Linked DNA regions of Homo sapiens: all the other regions are reported to be linked to region 2. The links are microRNA targets in miRTarBase. Many come from high-throughput screens and were not tested one by one. Region 2 holds a microRNA gene; each other region holds the end of a gene's coding sequence.

Region 1 (5,263 bases), not on the chromosome of region 2:
ATACTCACAGGCACTGTCAGGCACTGTCCTAAAGGTTGCATGTATATTAACTCGTTTTTTAATATTATAATTCAGCAATATGTACTGGTATTTAAGAAAGAGACATAACAAAGAATGTATCAAAACATCACTAGTGGCCAGGCGCAGTGGCTGACACCTGTAATCCCAGCACTTTGGGAGGCCAAAGCAGGTGGATCACCTGAGGTCAGGAGTTTGAGACCAGTCTGGCCAACATGGCGAAACCTTGTCTCTATTAAAAATACAAAAATTAGCTGGGTGTGGTGATGCGTGCCTAAAATCCCAGCTGCTTGGGAGGCTGAGGCCGGAGAATCGCTTGAACCCAGGAGGTGGAGGTTGCAGCGAGCCAAGATCGCGCCACTGGACTCCAGCCTGGGCGACAGAAAAAGATTTCATCGAAAAAAAAAAAAAATCACTAGTTTAGATTAACACAGAGGAAAGATCAGACTAAATGGTACTTTCTTAAAATGAGCTGCTAAGTTGTATATGTTTACGGTGTACAAAAGGATGTCTTGAGGTATATATACGTTGTGAAGTGGCTAAGTCAAGATATTTAACATACACCTTACCTCACATACTTATCATTTGGTGACACATAGCTACCAAGTTACGAGAACACTTAAAATCTTCTCTCTGCAATTTTCAAATACACAACATTGTTATCAACTGTAGTAAGCATGATATACAATAGATCCCTTGAACTTACTCTAACCGAAATGCTGTGAACTTTGACCAACATCTCCCCAACCTCACCCCATTCCACCCCAGCCTCTGGTAACCACCATGTTACTCTGAGTTGGATTTTTTTAGACTCCACATATGAGATCATGTGATACTTGTCTTTTTGTGCCTGGCTTATTTCACTCAGGATAGTGTTCCCCAGGTTCACTCATGTTGTCACAAATGACAGGATTTTTTTTTTTTTTTTTTTTTTTGAGATGGAGTTTTGCTCCATGGCCCAGGCTGGAGTGCAGTGGCGTGATCTCAGCTCACTGCAACCTCCACATCCCAGGTTCAAGTGATTCTCCTGCCTCAGCCTCCCAAGTAGCTGGGATTACAGGCACCTACCACCATATCTGGCTAATTTTTGTATTTTAAGTAGAGACGGGGTTTCAGGTTTCACCATGTTGAGCAGGCTGGTCTCGAACTCCTGACCTCAAGTGATCCACTCACCTCGGCCTCCCAAAGTGCTGGGATTACAGGCGTGAGCCATTGCGCCTGGCCAGGATTTCCTTTTTAAAGGCTGAATAGTATCCCATTGTATACAGACCACATTTTCTTTATCCATTCATCCACTGATGAACACACTGATCCCATGTCTTGGCTACTGTGAATAATGCTGCAGTGAACATGGGGTGCAGACACCTCTCTGACACACGGATTCCATTTCCTTTGCATGTGTACCCAGGAGTGGGATGGCTGGATCATACACAGTCCTATTTTTGGTTTTCTGAGGACCCCCCACCCCAGTGTTTTCCAGAACGTGTATACTAACCGACAATACCACCAACAGGGTGCGAGGGTTTCCTGTCTCCACATCCTCGCCAGCACTTCTCTTCTGTCTCTTCCTGCAGCCATCCTAACAGGTGTGAGGTGGTTTCCATTGCCTTTCCCTGGTGATTAGTGATACCGGACATTTCTTTCATATGCCTGTGGGTCATTTGTGTGTGTTCTTTTGAGTTACTTGCTTTTTACTATTGTATTGTTTGGGTTTCCTATGGATTTGGGATACTAACCCCTTATCAGATGGATGGTTTGCAAATGCCGTCTCCTATTCGGTAGGCTCCCTAACTCTGCTGATTGCTCCTTTGCTGTGCTGGGTTCACTCATTTACCATGAGGGCTGAGATGCTGCTGACCAGCAGGAGCTACTGAAATGTGGGTCAGTGCCATTCATGTCATTGCTAAGCGTCCTCCCACAGGCTACAGCAGGCCCAGGGGAACTTGGGAACACACACAGGCACACCCACTCACTCCTGTGTGTCCCCACATCCCAGGGAGAGAATGGCAGAGCCACCCCCACCCCCACCCCCCTCCACCCCACCCCGGTGTACACAGCTCTACACTGGTGTCCAGAAGCCACACAGAGCATTCTTGCACCTAGAGAAGACAACTTCCATACCCTGCTGGGCTGGGAAAGAACCCCCGGGGCCTTCTCTCCTAGTCTGGGGAGAACACCAACCCTAGGGGCGGTGGGGGCTCTGGGTTCCATTCTGCCCACCCCAGCTGACCTCGGAACTACAACCTTGTTCCCCTAACCCTGCAAGCATGGGGGAAGAGGCCTGGAGTCAGTGCTGTCTCTACCCCACCCTCCCCACTGACTCTTTAAATGCCAGCACTCAACCAGGGGTGAGGTGTGTTCAATCAACCAGAGGCCCAAAGGGGTCAGGTGGGGCCCACAGGGGTTAGGGGAGAAAGTGGAGGCTGAGATCCAGGCTCCTTCACAGGCCCCCAATTCCACTTTGCTCTATACTGTTTCCCTAGATGCAGCAATCCTTCATATGTTAGTGAGAATTCGCTGGTTCCGTTGCTTTCTTCAAGGAGGAGCTCAGCCTGACATCCAGTGTAAGAGGGTGAGGCAAAACTGGGGATGCGTGTCTGCAAAAACCCGCCTGCTCTAGAGCTGGAAGTGCCAAGAACAGGTGCTCTCAACTCACTCTGCCTGCCCACCCTTACTCTGAAGGGGCAGGGACCTCAGCCTGTTGTACCAGTTCTAGAACGTCTGTCTGACACTAAAGACATATTAGCAGCCAGGTGCACTCACATTTAGCTGTTTTTAATGCTTAAAAGCTCTGTACAAAAAAAAAAAAAATCACAAATGAATCCTCACAACACCCCTGTGAGGTAGGTAGGCAAGTATTATTCTCCCATTTTACAGATGGGGAAACTGAGGCAGAGAGGTGATGTGATCAGCCAGTGGTCCCAACACAGCTGAAAGTCAGAGCCAACCATGAGAACACAAAGGATCCCTCCCCATTCAGTCCCATCTCTGACTCCGCATCTAGACCTTGTCTGCAAAGAAATTAAAACGTCTTAATTCATGCAAAAATAAAAACAATAAACCTGAAAAGGTAGTGAACAGACACACAGTAGTTCTGCAAAAGAATTCAGCCAAGGGGGTCAAATATTTTCCAATACTGGATAAATGGGAACAACTTCGGCCTCCTCCCCTTTTCAAATATCATGACCAATGACACATCCTTTTTTTTTTTTCCTGCAGAAGTACACGAGCCTAACCAAAGACAGGCTTTCCTGGTCCCAGTGAGCCAAGCAAGGTGGACAGCCTCCTCACTGTTCAGCTCCTGGGTTTCAGCAAGCACCAGTCCCCAGCTGGAAGAGCTGCAAGGCTCAACGCAAACATGGCACTTCTCTGCCACCTGTTCCCAGCAGCCTTCCCGCTGTGTGGAAACAGTGGATCCCAGCAGCCTCTAACTCAGCAGGGTCTGGCCTTTTCTGCTCCCACCGGAAGGCAGGCTCAAAGATGCTCAGCAAGGATGGCCTGGAACCCAGGTGATCCCCTCCCACCACCCTCAGTGCACCCTTGCACACCTCACTGTCCATGAGGACCACCCCAGCAACCACCCTCAGCTAGCACTCCTTGGGGCTCCTGCTGCAGCAGGTGGGGGCACCAGGCCATCCTGGGCTGCCGGGACAGAGAGAGATGCCGGGGGACCTGCAGCTCCAGGCCTTGGCTTCCTCTGTGCCTCCTGCCCAGGTTCCCAGACAAGTGGAGCAGGCCTCTTCCTCTGTGCTGCGTTCGCCCCCTGGAAGCTCTTTCCTCCCCATGAGAGGGGCTCCCTGAAGTCTCCAGCTCCTTGAGAAACCTCCACCATCCTGCCAGCCCCACCAGGCTGGGTAGGTTGTCATTCCTGAAGTCTCCCAGGTCGGAGATGGGGGCATGAGAGTCCAGAAAACTGGGTGAAGCTGCCTTTCACATAATAGATCTATCCAGAACACTGTCCCCTCCACCCACCTCAGGCTGCCAGACGCCCGAGGGCAGTGCTTGGGCAGCAACAAGGGGAGCGGCAATGGCAGAGCAGCAGGAGTAAGGAAGTGGGGAGCTACCAGTGGCCGGGTCTGCTCTGTGCCAGGGGCTGCCAGGCCAATCTGAGAGAGGGGAGAAGAGGACAGAGAGATCCACAGTGTTTGGCAACTGGGGGAGTGAGCCCCTTGGAGGCTGAACGCCGGCCTGTCTGCAAGGTACACACAGCAGTGTGCACCTTGTGAGCACTCCAGTGAGTGCTCCTCCCTGGAGGTCAGCCACACACCTTGGTGGTTTGCAAGGGATGGCTGTGCTGTCTCCCTGTCCTATAAAAAGTTCTTTCTAAAAAGGCTCCCAACTCCGCTCAGTCTCTCCAGGAAGTGGGGGAATCATTTCAAGGCCAGCACCCCTCAGGGCCGCTCCCAGCCAAGAGCACCTCAGACACCCCAGGCCTGCGTGGGGCCCTGTGGGTGGGGGGACAGGGAGTAAGGCCCCCTACAGCAAGTCCTCGGGGGCAGAGGGCTCGAGGCTGCAGCTCTGCTCCTGCCACCGGTAGCGCAGCCTGGAGAAGGGCTGGTCCTCCCCGCTCTCCAGCTCGGGGAAGCCCAGCTCGTTAAGGATCTCGTAGATGCCAGCCTTCGATGCCACCTGGGAGGAGAGCAGAGGCAGGAGCAGTGTTTCAGGGGAGGGAGGGTGCCACTAAGGCCACTGAGTTCTGAAGATGAGTCTGTGGCCTGTGAACTTGGTGACCTGAACAAGTTTGCACCTTGACTTCTGTTAACTTCTCTGAGCGTCAGTTTCCTCATAGCAAGGAAAAGACTCTACCTCACAGGACTGTCTCAAGGAGGACTCTACACATACAGAAAGTACTGGGCAGACAGTGAGTGCTCCACACAGATAGCAGCGAGGGAGGCCAGGCACACACTGGGCCCTGTGCAGCTCGATGCTCCCACGTGGACGCCCAGGAGCAGGGCCTAAAGGGAGGGCTGGAGGAAGAACGTGGATGCAGGGGCAGGTAAGGCTATGGCCTCTGCCCCAGGTGGGCTAGCTGGAGGCACCCCTGGACACTCAGCCCTGCCGCCCAGCAGCCCAGACCCTGGCACCAGACTCAAACCATCCACAACCAGTCCCCTTCTCTCTCCACCATCCTGGGGAAGGGGAGGGTGCAGCCTCCACTTAGAACAAAGGAATGGGTCCGTCCCGCTCTGGGGCCTCCCTCACTGCTACCCTCCACTCATCCGCAGGAGAGAGGGGCTGAGGTCCC
Region 2 (5,000 bases):
CTTGAGCCTTGGAGTTTAAGACCAGCCTGGGCAACAGAGTGACACCCTACCTTAAAAAAAAAAAAGAAAATTTTTTTTTTCTTTTTTGCACTTCCTCAGCTGGCCATGGTGGTTCATGCCTGTAATTCCAGCACTTTGGGAGGCTGAGGCAGGAGGATCGCTGGAAGCCAGGAGTTTGAGAGTAGCCTGGGCAACAAAGCAAGACCCTGTCTGTATTTAAAAAAAGAAAAAATTGGTTGGGCACGGTGGCTTATGCCTGTAATTCCAACTTCCAACACTTTGGGAGGCTGAGGCGGGAGAATTGCTTGACCCCAGGAGTTTGAGACCAGGGTGGGCAACTTGGTGAAACCCATCTCTACTAAAAATACAAAAATTAACCAGGTGTGGTGGCACGTGCCTGTAGTGCCAGCTACTCAGGAGGCTGAGGTGGAAGGATCACTTAAGCCTGGGAGGTTGAGGCTGCAGTGAGCCATGATGTGCCACTGTACTCCAGCCTGGGTGACAGTGAGACCCTGATATGGACAAGATTAGCACATCCTCTGCACAAGAATGACATGCAAACTTGTGAAGTGTTCCATATTTTTAAAAATTAAAAAAAAAAAAATTTTTTTTAGGGACAGGATTTTGCTGTGTTGCCCAGGATGGTCATGAACTCCTGCCCTCAAGTGATCCTCCTGCGTCAGCCTTCGGAGTAGCTGGGATTACAGGCGCAAGCCACTGCCCCTGGCTGTGTGTTAAAAATCTAGTTAAGGCTGGGCAGGGTGGCTCACAACTGTAGTCTCAGCGCTTTTGGAGGCTGAGGTGGGCAGATTGCTTGAGCTCAGGAGTTCAAGACCAGCCTGGGCAATGTGGCAAAACCCTGTTTCTACAAAAATTACAGTCTGGCATGGTGGTGTGCACCTGTGGTCCCAGCTACTGGGGAGGTTGAGGTAGGAGGATTGCTTGAGCCCAGGAGGTTTAGGCTGCAGTGAGCTGTGATTATGATTGCACCACTGCACTCTAGTCTGGGCAACAGAGCAAGACTCTGTCTCCAAAAAAAAAGTTATATATTGCCAAATTGTGCTCCAAAAAGGTTATATGTGTTTATCCTTATGCTAACCATATATGAGACTTTCCTAAATCAGCCCTCTTTCTCCGTTATCTCAGCTGGAGAAGCGACTGGAGGAGTGGTTGGGGAGGACATTGCCTGGCAGTGACTGGACACCCAATGCCCAGTTTATCACCCGTTCTTGGCTTCGGGATGGCCTCAAGCCACGCTGCATAACCCGAGACCTCAAATGGGGAACCCCTGTACCCTTAGAAGGTTTTGAAGACAAGGTAAAAACCCTTTTTTATTCATATCATTCAGCCTTAGTGTTGAAACCCTGGGCTAGCAGAGTAGACTGCTGATTATGTCTTGTTTCAGTTTGAGACTTTGGATTGGTCCCTAACATGTTTACCTCCTTCTGACCTCCAGGTATTCTATGTCTGGTTTGATGCCACTATTGGCTATCTGTCCATCACAGCCAACTACACAGACCAGTGGGAGAGATGGTGGAAGAACCCAGAGCAAGTGAGCAGTTCTTGGTTAGGCTGTGCATGGGGAGGGTAGGCGGTAGGGTGTGGGTGTTAGGGTTGGGTGTCTGGTCTTCCTTGGGCCTTTGAAGGAGGTCTCAGGAAATCTCTCCTAACCACATTCCCCTAGGTGGACCTGTATCAGTTCATGGCCAAAGACAATGTTCCTTTCCATAGCTTAGTCTTTCCTTGCTCAGCCCTAGGAGCTGAGGATAACTATACCTTGGTCAGCCACCTCATTGCTACAGGTAAGTACCCTGGAAGACTACTGATGGGGTGTTCATAGGAAATGAGGGGTGAGGCAGTACTTGGAAAAAGATCTTGGAGAGCTGCTATCTTGAGTTAGGAGTTGAGCTGAAATAGGAAATAATTAAAATGAGAACTCAACCTAGAGAAACGAACAAGAACCTGAAGAAAGCAAAAGTCTAAAGCTAAAACTCTTTAGTAGATATAAGCAAAGAGAAAAAAGGGCCAGAATGGATAGGAAGGGACTCCCAAAATCTGAGCATACCAGCCCCTTAAGGAGAAATGTTGCTAGACACCCATAGTTGAGGTTAGAAAGAGGAAAGAAGGAAGAGTTAGTGGGCTAGAGAGGGGAAGGATGTGATGTGAGCAGATGGTTCTCACTCATTCTCCTCTGTCCAGAGTACCTGAACTATGAGGATGGGAAATTCTCTAAGAGCCGCGGTGTGGGAGTGTTTGGGGACATGGCCCAGGACACGGGGATCCCTGCTGACATCTGGCGCTTCTATCTGCTGTACATTCGGCCTGAGGGCCAGGACAGTGCTTTCTCCTGGACGGACCTGCTGCTGAAGAATAATTCTGAGCTGCTTAACAACCTGGGCAACTTCATCAACAGGTAGGACTTGGTAAGGGGTCAGAGTTAGCAGTGAGCTGGGGTGGGGCTCATTTTCCCTCAGGAGATGGGAATGTGGAGAGAACTAGAAAATGGGCAGGAGGCTGTGAGGACACTGTGGAAAGTTGATTTCTATTAATTGGGATCTGTTCCTAGCACATACTAGGCTATGTGTGCTTGATGGAACAGTTAGCTGTAGAGATGTGATTTAGCAAAGTTGGTTATAAAGTGGGTTTTTGTAAATTGTTTCCTTATTACTGTTCTTTGTAGAATTGAAGATGTATTCTCTCCCAGCAAAATAGTTCACCTGCAGATCATTGAAAAGTTTGGCTGAAGAAAGGGGTTATTTTGGTGTGGGGGTAGGAGGCTTCTGTGGGCTGGGCATGGTGGCTTACATTTGTAATCCCAGCACTTTGGGAGGCTGAGGCAGGAGGATCACTTGAGGCCGGGAGTTCAAGACTTGCCTGACCAACATAATGAATCTCCCATCTCTACAAAAAGAATCAGCCAGGCGTGGTGGCGCACACCTGTAGTCCCAGCCACTCAGGATGCTGAGGCGGGATGGTCTCTTGAACTTGGGAGATTGAGGCTGCAGTGGAGCAGTACTCGTACCCCTACACTCCAGCCTTGGCAAAAGAGGGAGATCCTGTCTCAAAAAAAAAAAAAAAAAAAGGCTTCTGCTATACTCTTCAGAGTTCAGAGTTTTTGTTACCTTAGGCTCACATTCTATCATTGGTGCCTATCTCAGCTCTTCTGCAATCTAAAGCAGTATTCTCCAGAATTTAGGATTCTTTAGTCACACTCTCTGAGCCCTGGACCCTTATAGGTCAGTCCTGCTACTCACTTTCAGCTTTGGTAATTAACCACATTTAATAAATAGTCCTTACCTACAGGAGTTCGAGACCAGCCTGGCCAACCTGGTGAAACCCCGTCTCCACTAAAAATACAAAAAGTAGCCGGGCGTGGTGGCGCACATCTGTAATCCCAGCTACTCAAGAGGTTGAGGCAGGAGAATCACTTGAACCCGGGAGGCAAAGGTTGCAGTGAGCCAAGATCATGCCACTGTGCTCCAGCCTGGGCAACAGAGTGAGAATCCTCAAAAAAAAAAAAAATTAAAAAAAAAAAAAAGTACTTGCCTAGAGTGTTTGTTTGATAGCAGTTAACACATACTCAGCTTGGTCATTTTGAGTAATGACTTTTTTTTTTTTTTTTTGAGATGGAGTTTCTCTCTTGTTGCCCAGGCTGGAGTGCAGTGGCGCGATCTTGGCTCACTGCAACCTCCGCCTCCCGGGTTCAAGCAATTCTCCTGCCTCAGCCTCCAGAGTAGCTGGGATTACAGGTGCACACCACCACGCCCGGCTAATTTTTTGCATTTTTAGTAGAGACGAGGTTTCACCATGGCCAGGCCAGGCTGGTCTTGAACTTCTGACCTCAGGTGATCTGCCCACCTCGGCCTCCCAGAGTGCTGGGATTTTAGGCGTGAGCCACTGCGCCCGGCCGAGTAATGACTTCTTAAAAATAAGAGGTACAGTTGTTTAACTTAATCAGGTTTCTTATGTGCAGAGTCAGATTCTTAGGGGAGAGAAAGAGTAAATAATTAGGCCTTGTCTACTAGCTTGAGGGAGCCAGGAGTTACCTGTTCCAGGCAGGAATCCTGAGAGAATGTACAGCTGTGGAAATTGGGTGAAATTCTAACAAGGAGACGGGATAATAACTTCCCCTCTTTTTTCCACTTCTGCTTTCCTACTCCCAACCAAGAGCTGGGATGTTTGTGTCTAAGTTCTTTGGGGGCTATGTGCCTGAGATGGTGCTCACCCCTGATGATCAGCGCCTGCTGGCCCATGTCACCCTGGAGCTCCAGCACTATCACCAGCTACTTGAGAAGGTTCGGTAAGTAACTGACACCTCTGTCTTTTCTGCTGGCATGTTGAGAGCCTCCTTGTATTGGTCTCTGTAGGACATTACACCTTGGCCTGCTTCCTCCCTTCCCAGGATCCGGGATGCCTTGCGCAGTATCCTCACCATATCTCGACATGGCAACCAATATATTCAGGTGAATGAGCCCTGGAAGCGGATTAAAGGCAGTGAGGCTGACAGGTAGGTAAGCGGGGAGGGTTGGCTAAAGGCATAAAGTGGCTTGTAAGCTGTATCCTCCTGGAGGTCTTGACTAATGTCTCCTCTTCCTCAGGCAACGGGCAGGAACAGTGACTGGCTTGGCAGTGAATATAGCTGCCTTGCTCTCTGTCATGCTTCAGCCTTACATGCCCACGGTTAGTGCCACAATCCAGGCCCAGCTGCAGCTCCCACCTCCAGCCTGCAGTATCCTGCTGACAAACTTCCTGTGTACCTTACCAGCAGGACACCAGATTGGCACAGTAGGTGGAAGAGCCAGCCTCTCTTAAAATTGATACTCTTGCCATGCAGCTTTTGGAGTGGGTGAGAGAAGACCTAACATCTCTCCAGTGTTACTTTGGTCATGGGACTCCTAAGTTTCTGATATAAAGTCCTTGGTAGTCGTTCACAAGTCCGGAATTATCTGTACATCTTCATTGTTCTTCATGCCAGAAACCAGAACCTGGCACACAAAACT
Region 3 (5,263 bases), not on the chromosome of region 2:
TTACTCAGCAACCACCTGCTCAAGAACCACAAGAGCTCCTCATTAGCTGCCAAGGCAAGTCTAAACTCTTTTGCCTAGCTTTCAGGATCTCCATGCTCTGACCCCTCCCAGGGTGATATGACAGCTGTCTTAATATTTTTGAAGGGCTGTCAGAGAGAAGGATTAGTCTGATTCTGTGCTGCCCCAGCAAGCAGAAGGTACTATCACAGGTGGAAATTACAGAAAGATTTAAGTGCCTCGAAGTGTAAACATTTTCCATTCTACTTAGGGTGGCAGAGGTGGTGGTGGCGGTGGTGGCAATAAAGGGAATACTGTGTGTGACTCCAACAGAACTTGTTCTCCACTTACCAGTCTAAGATTCCAGGAAATAACAAAATACTGCACATCCAGTAGGTTGATGTATATATCATTAAGTATTTTTTCTATGTATAATTTTTTTGTAATTTTCAAAAATGAGATCTCACTATAACCAATTTCTTTCACATAACAGAATACAGTGTCTATCTTTCCGCATCATTAAATTTTCTTCCATCATCTCAGTATAAATGGCATGCCACATTTCATTGTATGAATGTTCAATAATATCAATAGCTTATTCAATAAGTCCCCTGTGGCACTTTTTTTTTTTTTTTTTTGAGACAGAGTCTTGATCTGTCACCCAGGCTGGAGTGCAGTGGCACCATCTTGGCTCACTACAACCTTTGCCTCCTAGGTTCAAGTGATTCTTGTGCCTCAGCCTCCCGAGTAGCTGGGACTACAGGTGCATGCCACCACCCTGGCTAATTTTTGTATTTTTAGTAGAAATGGGGTTTCACTATATTGGCCAGGCTGGTCTCGAACTCCTGGGCTCAAGTGATCTGCCTGCCTTGGCCTCTCAAAGTGCTGGGATTACAGGCTCGAGCCACCATGCCCGGCCCCCTGTGGCACCTTTATAATATCAGAAACATTGCTATGGGTAGGTAGAATCTGAATGATCAAAAGGAGGATAGATAGGTTGGTGGAGAGAGAAAGTTCAGAGTGGTGAGACAGTCTGGCACCATCTCCTGACAGGCATTGAAGATATCCGGCCTGGAGACCAGGACGCAGGTTACCGGATAGTGGGGCTGAGGCTGGCCCTGAGAACATCTAGATCTAGGAGGCTTCTTAGAGGTCATCTTGCTTTGCAACCCTCCAGGAGTTCGACTTCACTGTATAGCATCCCTGGCAGGGCTGACCAGCCCCAGCTCCTGTATTTTAGAGCTCGCTGCTGTGCAATGCTATCCGTGTCATTGCTGCAAAGCTCTGTCTGTTAGAAGGTCAAGTTCTCTGGGTAATGGGATTCGAAGTATTTTCTTTTTATCTGTGCTTTCTAAATTTTATGAAATTAGCATGATTCAACATTTATTGGCTTTTACGAAAGTATTTTTTAATTCTATTCATCAAAGCCACCTTCTTCTCTGTTTACTCTGCCTACACTTATCTTTCCTGTCTCTAAATCTCATTGTTAATTTCTGTATAATCCAGTACATGTCTATATAGTGTCTTGTGTTATTAAAAGTTTGTTTCACTCATGTTGGTCTCAGCTCTCCAATGAAGAACATTTTCCTCTGGCCAAATTGTGACTTATTTTCTCATTTTCCCTGACACATAGCACTGTGCAGGAATTGGCCACTTGATGATGGCTTGGTACTGGATTCTCCAGGTGTCACATGAACTACCTGGCTCTCCACAGAGGCTCTGGACCTGGGGATGCCCCCAAACACCCACAGTTCTCCTGGGTCTGCTGAGCCCCTTGGAAATGACCCAGGTATCCAGTCACTGGCATTGCTAATGTTCAACCTGTCACATTATTCTGCCTCTATCTCCCCTTTGACCTCTAGTGACTGGGCCAAGAGACCTGCAGAACCTAGTGTCCTGTCCAGATTCCAAACTAAATGTCCTCCAGTAGCTACAGCACAACTGGAGGCTGGAAGATCACTTTTGTATTCTTTTCTCATTATTTGTGAACAGCATTAGAGCTGAGGTGGTCTCTAGCCGCTACCAATCTTTAAGAAATTACCCCGCAATCCATTCTTGAAAAATAAGCCTTATTGCCATTGTGCCTACTGTGTGTCAGATACCATGCCAGACAGCTCTGTAAAGCCGACCGCAGAGACTAGGTCCTGACAGCCATCCCTTTGCTCTCTTGCTCAGTCCATATGGGAGGCAGCTACTCAATTACATTTTTACTAGCAAACCCTCTGAAATGACCTTTACAATGATATCATCACACTCTTTTTACTCAGCAACCACCGCTTAGCACTATTAATCTCTCCTCTCCACGCTAAATCAGAGGGGCAGCATAGCCTACTTAAATAAAGCTTAGGAGACCCTGCTGGTTTCTCGACAGTTTTTTTTCAAGTGCATTCAGACATGATTCTCCATAGATATTGAAGGGCTGTCAGATGGGAGGAGGACGAGATCTACTCTGTGACCGAATCCTATTGCTTCTACAACCCTAACATGGCTCCCGGCTCCATGCCACAGTCCTGCTTCAGACCACCATGCACTTGCCTGGATTACCACAGCAGCCTCCTAACCAGTTGGCCTGCCTGTCCAGTCTTGCTCCTCTAATCCTTTCTCCAGAGAGCCTAAGTGATCTGTTTAAATTGTAAATCTGATCACACCACACCTCTGCTTAAAACTCCGTAATGCTTTTGCATGGCCTTCAGGATAAATCTAAACTCCATAGCATCGCTTTGAAGACCCAGTGTCTGCTTGGCTCTCAGGCTGCATGTCTTGCCCAGATTGTTTCAGTCCTACCAAACCACTTGCACACCAAATCCCAAATACTTTTTAATTCTCTTACCTCCAGGTCTTTGCCTAGAACATAACCCCTCCCCTCTTCACCAAGTTAGCTCATTTGCCTTCCAGGTGTCACCTCAGATGTTACTTCCTCCAAATGTCTACCCTGGTCACCCAAGGCTACGCTGGGTATCCTTCTGTCTTCTGAGTATCCTAGGTTTATTCTATCTTCTCTCCTGTCATTTTGTTTTGTAATTGCCTGTTTCCATGTATCTTCCTCTCCAGACAGTAAGCTCCTTGAGGGCTGGGATTGTTTTTATCTATCATTGTATTTCCAACACCAGTGCTTGCCACAGAGACACTCAATAGTTAATGAATGAATGACAGATGACCTAACAAGGATAGGTGGAAGACTCAGAGGGGTACATTTCTATGTACTGAAGAACTTGCTAATAACTGGTGATATATAAAAAAAAAAAAAAAAAAAAAAAAAAAAAAAAGGAACACACTGACCCACCAAGCACAGGGAAAGCCCCATCTCTGAAAAGTCTCCAAGCAGAGCCTAACTGGTCATCAGGCAGGGAGCTTCCTCAGTAGATGGCAGTAGATGTGAGATGCCCTCCACTCATTTCCCATCTGTAGGAAGCCACGCTTAGATTCATTCGTGAGGTCAAAACACTTGGGCTGGGGTCCCACTTCTGCACTGACTGTGAGACTTTGGACTAGTCACAGCCTCTGAGCTTTCTTGCTTGTGAAATACAAATGACACCTGCACTGCCTACTTCAGAGATTTTGTGAGGTTCAAATGAGATCACACATGCTCAAGTACTCTGTGAAAGCCTTAAAATAAAATGAAATGTATTATTTACCATGTAATCTTCAGGACTTGCAGCTTCACTGAATAATTTGAGTTTCACAACTAAAATGGAAAACCAAGTGCCACACTGTAAAGCACTGCTGCAGGCAGAGCTGCGAATTAGAGCAGAGATCTGCCCCTTCTGTGCTGCGCTACCGCCCTAGGGAAGACAGTGGGGATCTGGAGCATCTGATTGGTTGGGATCTGTCAAGGGCTTGTTGTTCTAGCCATCAGGGAGATTGCTTGGGGCCTACCACTAATGTCTTAAATTGTCATGAAAATCAGCAGAAAACTACAGACATACTCAATAAACCTTTCCTTTGGGTCCCTTGATTTATGCTTAAAGGAAAGTCAAGAACAGTTAACAGCATTTCACTTCCCCTTTAGCAAGACAAACCCAATGAAACCATTTAATTTAAAGGCTTTTTATTAGGAACCAGGGGAATGAGCTGCTTATCCCTCTATAACAGTCTAGAGCAGGTCATCAGGCCCAGGATGGAGAGAGGTTATCAAAGGTGCTGTGGTGTGCTTTGCTGCACGTGCTTAGGGCCTGGAAGGAAAGGTGGTGGCAACAGAGGTTGGCAGGAACTGGTGTTAGTCAAAACACCAAAATCCTGGGGGAGAGCCCCTCTACCTTCCTTCTAACTCCACTTGAGGTGGGAGCATTCCAGGAGACAGAGAATGTGACCAGGATGCAGCAGTGTCATCTGAACCCCTGGCTTCGTTCAGTGCTACTTCACTTGCCAGCCCTCCACTCTTCTTGCCTTTTAGTGATTAGGTATTTGAAGAACTCATACACAGACCATGCGATGGCTGTGGAGGGGATCTGGTAAATTACTCTGGCCTGCACCCCTCGGAAATAGGCGGTCACCCCACCTACTTGATATACCGTCCTGAAGGCACTAGCCATGCCTGTGATATGTCCTGTAATGTGTGAGTTCAAAGCCAAGGACTCCTGGGTGTTGAGCAGTGTTTTGCAAACGTCCAGTGGGGTTGTGGCTGCGGCAGCTACAGCTCCTGCGCAAGCTCCAGAGAGGACGTGGGAGCTTGGGTTGTACCGTCTCTGGGGGTTAAAGTGCTCCTGCAGGAATTCATAGGTCATGAAGTGAATGGCTTGGAAAGGAACGTTCATGGTCAGCTGGGTGGTGTAGCTGCGGTAAAAGGCCCCGGCCCCTTCATTTTGCCACACTGCCCGTACACAGTCTGTCACCCGGTGGTATGGTGAGTTGTACATCTGCATCCTCTGCTTGACCACTAGTAGTGCCATCAACGAGGAAGGAAATGGTGACAGCAGCCAACCGGTGATGGAGAGTATCCAGATTCAGAGCCCCAAGTCAGCAGATCAGCCAATGGAATAGAGAGAGAAAAAAGTATGAGTGAGCTGCTGGCTAACCTGAGAAGTCAGCTTCCCTTTTTTGAGGGGAAGGAGTAAGCAGAGGGTTGGTAACGAGTCAAAAAACAATAAACCCACTTCCATCAGGACTTCTGTAAAGCCAGCCAGTTCGCACACAGGACATATCTACAGTTTGGGAGCTTCAGAGAGTCTTCTTGAACTAAGTACCTATCTCTGATCTTACCCTCTAACAATTCCCAACAAGAAATGACTCCATGATAGTGATCATCACGAACACAGGCCCCTAACAA
Region 4 (5,000 bases), not on the chromosome of region 2:
GTTCCTAGAATGTCCAGAAAGCACCTCCTCAGGGCAGCCCTGAAAGTGCCCTTTACTCTCAAGGCATTTTGTCCTCAGAGCCCAGAGATGCATATACATTTGCTGGGTTCTGCCTGGGCATCTACCCAGGGGAGTTGTATCTGAGGGCCGAGTCCTCTCAGTGCCTCATGGATCACAATGTAGACAATCCACGTGCTGGTCCTTGGCAATACATCATGCTAATTTAATTTATATCTCCAGAGTAGCAAAAATGTACCACAGGTCTCCAGAATATATCAGGAATTTGTAAAAATGCAGCCCATTAAAATATCTGCCACTGATAAAAAATTCATAAAGATGCTGCTTAAAAAAACTTGTCCTTTTCTTGTCATGGTGAAGTCAAGTAAGTAACACCTTTATCTGTGAAATCACTCAGCAGAATAAATTGGTTTCATATGGAAGAAATGTAAAATAACTTATATGTATTTAAAGCAAATTATCTAGTTCTTCATTCTTGTTACTTCTATGCCTTCTCTATAGTGCAGTCTTTTGTCTCTTTGATCCTGATGAACTGATAATTTACTACTTATTACATTTAGATTCCCAATCCTTTATTCATGTGTATCTTGAATTTCAGCAAGATATGAAAATGCAGACTCCAGGGGTACATTTTGTAATGATACAAGCCTTCTGAGGAAATTTTCTGACAGGAGCTTTTAATCCTGCTGTGGTCTGTTTTACCCTTTCCAATACGGTTTTCCTCTGTGCTTGCGAAAAATATCAAAAAAGACCAATTGGCACATTCTGAATGTGTTTTCTGAATAAGTATATAAGTAGAGAGGGAGGCCATTTTGCAAATGCGGATAATGCTGACATGTCGTACTTCTAAATAAATTATAATTTGATTTAAAAAGGTTGCCTGCATGTACATTTGCCATTTTACAAAGAGCAACCGTACTCCTACCTCCACCCAAGTTGGTAACAACCTTATCTTACAAACAACCCTTAATATTTTAAAAGCTGCAGAAAAAACAAATACATGAATAAATGAATAAACAAAAAACACATAGGGAAAGGGTATGAGCTCTTGCTGCAAGGAGTAGATGAAAGACTGATAAATGAAGCTGAGGTCCCCCCAGTGCTTCCCTTTCAATAGTTTATGCTAAAAATATTTGTTTTTTAAAACTCTGCGCTTTCTTCATTTTTATTGGAACGCAATTTGTGAACCACAACTGAGTCTGTATGCAGGATCTCCAGAACGCAAATCAGAAAAAAATTTGAGATTTTATTCAGATTTTTCTATTAGATTGAGCCACTAATGTTCGGTAAGGGGCACTTGATGGTTAAAAAACACAACTGGCATGATAAAACTACACTAAATAATATCTACTTTATTTGAACAGTCATATCAAGAATGGCCCTAAATTTAATCAAGGACTAAATTTAATGAAAGACTCTGACATTAAAGACTCTGGATTGTTTGAAGGTATTTTGCCTGCAGGTGAGACTGGTTTTGAGGGCACAGAAACGTAGCCTGAATGAACCATTCAGAACTCATCATGCATCCAACTGAACACGTTTCATGCTTACTCAATTTTTTTTTTTTAAATGCAACAGGCTCAGTTTTCTCACATTGGTGCATCTCTTCATGCTAGAACTGCTTATGTCTACAGAGTCCCTGAAGAAGCAAAAATCCTTTTTTTAGCATTAAACATAGCATATGGAGTTCTTCCTCAGCTCTTGGCCTATCGTTGTATCTACAAACCAGAGTTCTTCATAAAAACAAAGGCAGAAGAAAAAGTGGAATAAAAATATTACTTCATGTTCCTCCTTTCTAAATTACTAACTTTTGTTATACTGGTACTGATATTTTGTCCCATTTCACTCTCTTCTCATACGTGAGTACTTAAGAATATGTACATTCTTGCTCTGCACTGTATGTGTGAGCTATATGGTATTGTGTAAATTTTTTTTGAAGGAAAATGGAAATTCTTGAGAAACAGTTTGTTTAAAGAAATATATTCAAAATCATTTGTGAATAAACTTGATCATCCATCTCAATATTGTTTGACATATAAAATAATTATAAGTGTAAAAAATTACAATTTAGTGCCAACAGTAGTGAGCATGAAATGAAACTATTCAAAAGAGAATATGGCCTGTGCATATTAAAAAATTCAAAACAGTGAATGCAGACTGGAGGAGTAACTTTTGCAAATAAGATGAATATGCTTCATTATTAAACTCAATATAAAAGGCAAATCATCAGAATATTTTTAAATGTTGTTTGAAAAATGTTTTCCCAAGGAAAGTTTATTATTTGCTGCTGTTTCAAGAAAATTACTTTTACTAAATTTTTTTGTGTGAATTTAAACAGCTAAATAGGGATCAGTAACTTTATCTCTATCCTTAATGAACATTTGTTTTATTGGTGGCTGGAAATATTTCTATTGTATTTCTGTGTATATTTTTAATAAAATTATTTTTGGCCTCTTATAAAGACAAATCTTATTAAATTTGAAACATTTCATATATACACATAAAACGCTTTTAAAGAAAATTTGTGAGTTGTATATTCCAATTCAAAATGCCATCTACATTCCCCTTATGTTTCAGTGTGAGCAATGAAGAGGTCTTTTGATGAATTAAATTTCATTAATTAAAAAATACATTCAAATATTCAAAATTAAAAAGGACCTTTTAAGGAAGAAGTATTAGATCGACATCCCTACTATCTTTTTATGAACTTTTCATGTTTGGGATTGTATGTTGAGTATACTAGAGAAAATCAGTATTCACTAAATGAAAGAAACACACCAAAAATACAAACAGCCACCTCCTCACTGTGCCCTGGAATGATAAATGGACTGGTGCTTTCATACCCTTAGCTGCCATCATCACCATCATCATTATTAACGGCCCTAGGCTTTTAGGTCTGCTCACATTTTCTCATGTTTTTATTAGCTCTCATCAAGAAAACCAAAAGAAAATGGGATACAAATCAATGCATGGATAATATCAAATTACAAAATCTAGGGTCCACTGGGCTGGTAAATATGTAAGTGTAAGCAAATCATGTAGTCATCTCCCCATCATCCCCTACAGTGTTTTCAAATAATCTAAAACCCAGAGAGTGTTTAAAAAAAAAAAAAGAAAGAAAAAGAAAAACCCTCACCTGCACTTGATTCTATTGTCAGCTTGCTGTGAACAATTTTTGCTTTAATATATGAATTACATTAATACCTCACGTTACATATATGAAGCCAAATTACACTAACTTAGTTTGCTTACAACCTCAAATCTTACTCCCAGTACACATTCCAATAAATTTATTCTGTAAAAACAATACATTTTTTTGTTTTTGATTTTTTTACAGTAAACTTTTCAACTACAAACCGTGAATACGCGAAAGATGTTCCAAGGACAAGCATTAACAGGATTGATAAAACCCAAACTGACTAAATGTGTTCTCACAATATAAGCTGGCATAAAAATAAATAAAATTCTCTATTATCACAATAGCAACAATAATGTACACATAATAATGGTTTAAGGATGAATATTAACTATTCTAATTGTAGTTCCAAAAGAAAACAGTTTATTTTAAAAGTCTACATTTAAAAGTCAATGCTTTGTCTGGTTTCCCATAGGGCTGTTGCTGATTCCAGCTTTAAAATGTAAAGTATCCACCTTGAGTGCTTAGCTCAAAATTGTATTGGCACTGGGAAAAAAATAAATCATTGCCTTTATTTTGGAGTAACACAAAAAGACTCACTAACTTCACATATAGAAACTTAGTTTGTGTACATAACAATATGAATTTTGAGAAGTATAAGCTGTCAACTAGCTATTTCTAATACGGAATAGATATTTTACAATATGGTTAAACTTTACACATGGCCTCAAAACTGAAGGACAATTTTAATTTCGTCTTCAATATACCAACGTTATGTATTTAGGAATTAATTCCTGGGTTCTGTCACAGAGAGGAAATTCCATTCTTAAGCATTATGTTGAGTGGTCATCTAAAAAATGTTAATTTATATTTAACTGAGTGTTTGATGATGGTGGGGTCAAGGCAGGAAAACGATGATCATAACTGCCTTGATAAAAGGATCCTAGACATGTATAAGTCTGCGCAAAAATCTTGATAATCCTTAGTGGTTAAGGGCAACTTCATGCAACCAAATAACATGAAATTAAATCAGTAACTTTTAAAAAAGGCTAAAATGTCTTTTCCCCCCGAAACACAACAGAGAGGAATATGAATAATGTACATACAAACTGGGGTTCTGTCAATGACAACAAGGACTATGTGTTGGTTCATATCAAATCCAAGAATATTAGACAACCAAACATATAACCTTCTTGTGGTTTCTCTTAATATGCAGCATTCATTATGGTAGTTAGGTCTGTAAAAAAAAAAAAAAGAAAGAAAACAAGCCTTTAGATGATTTAGGATACTAACAATGAGAGCTATCCACACCTAGATAGTACATAATTGGGTTTTCTGAAATTTTAATATGCACTGCAGCATTAACAATACTTACTGAGCAAGAGCAGCTTCTGTGGCTTTGCTTTAGACCTGTCAGTGCAAAAAGTTAAAGGAAATCCTAGGGTATTTTTAGTGTCCCATAGAAAAAAATTATAAACCTTGTCTACTGTCTGTTAGGACAGAGTGCAGCAGTGCACATTCTACAATTCTAGGACTATGTTTATTGCTGGAATACATCATCAGTGGAGAAATTGATATAATCTATCTTTGTGAGGACATTCTTCAGAAAGAAAGGTAAGCTGTGTAAAATTTAAAAAGCACTTAGAGTGTGCACCAATTAATCTTCAGAATATTTATAACTTAATTACTTGTGACACATAGCTCAAACAAATGTAGAAGTTAATCATGATGTACAAAGTCTCTGACTTCTTGCTTTTAAAAAAAACATAAAGAATAAGAGGAAGCCTAGATTTCTTTTAAAATTTAGATGGCATCCGTGTGACAAACAGAAAATAAAACATTTGTT

Evidence for each region. The annotated mature microRNA hsa-miR-6758-5p reads UAGAGAGGGGAAGGAUGUGAUGU and lies in region 2 at 2,142-2,164, shown strand. An mRNA with a match to its seed (bases 2 to 7 or 8) in the 3' UTR can be bound and repressed. Matches are read on the target gene's strand: a 7mer-m8 pairs with bases 2 to 8, a 7mer-A1 pairs with bases 2 to 7 and ends in A, and an 8mer does both.
Region 1: miRTarBase lists PALD1 as a target of hsa-miR-6758-5p. Seed matches in the 3' UTR shown: 7mer-m8 at 4,128-4,134 and 7mer-m8 at 2,912-2,918.
Region 3: the mRNA of SLC25A28 is a reported target of hsa-miR-6758-5p. Seed matches in the 3' UTR shown: 7mer-m8 at 4,119-4,125.
Region 4: the mRNA of HDGFL3 is a reported target of hsa-miR-6758-5p. Seed matches in the 3' UTR shown: 7mer-m8 at 4,234-4,240, 7mer-m8 at 3,963-3,969 and 8mer at 814-821.

What each region holds. Positions count from the first base shown.
Region 1 is chr10:70,565,965-70,571,227 of GRCh38, reverse strand. It overlaps PALD1 (phosphatase domain containing paladin 1), which reads right to left. Exons shown (of 20, transcript NM_014431.3): 20 at 2,778-4,647. The coding sequence ends at 4,495. Among named protein-coding and RNA genes, the nearest start is that of PRF1, 34 kb to the left of the region's middle.
Region 2 is chr12:57,510,552-57,515,551 of GRCh38, forward strand. It overlaps MIR6758 (microRNA 6758), which reads left to right and starts at 2,137; the gene lies at 2,137-2,199. It overlaps MARS1 (methionyl-tRNA synthetase 1), which reads left to right. Exons shown (of 21, transcript NM_004990.4): 12 at 1,147-1,317; 13 at 1,457-1,552; 14 at 1,685-1,802; 15 at 2,200-2,413; 16 at 4,169-4,300; 17 at 4,403-4,507; 18 at 4,599-4,785. It also overlaps the pseudogene LOC124903093.
Region 3 is chr10:99,606,494-99,611,756 of GRCh38, forward strand. SLC25A28 (solute carrier family 25 member 28) reads right to left here. Exons shown (of 4, transcript NM_031212.4): 4 at 4,029-4,873. The coding sequence ends at 4,356. Among named protein-coding and RNA genes, the nearest start is that of SLC25A28, 11 kb to the right of the region's middle.
Region 4 is chr15:83,134,885-83,139,884 of GRCh38, forward strand. HDGFL3 (HDGF like 3) reads right to left here. Exons shown (of 6, transcript NM_016073.4): 6 at 1-4,391. The coding sequence ends at 4,386. TM6SF1 (transmembrane 6 superfamily member 1) reads left to right here. Exons shown (of 10, transcript NM_023003.5): 10 at 1,597-2,524. The coding sequence ends at 1,788. Among named protein-coding and RNA genes, the nearest start is that of TM6SF1, 30 kb to the left of the region's middle.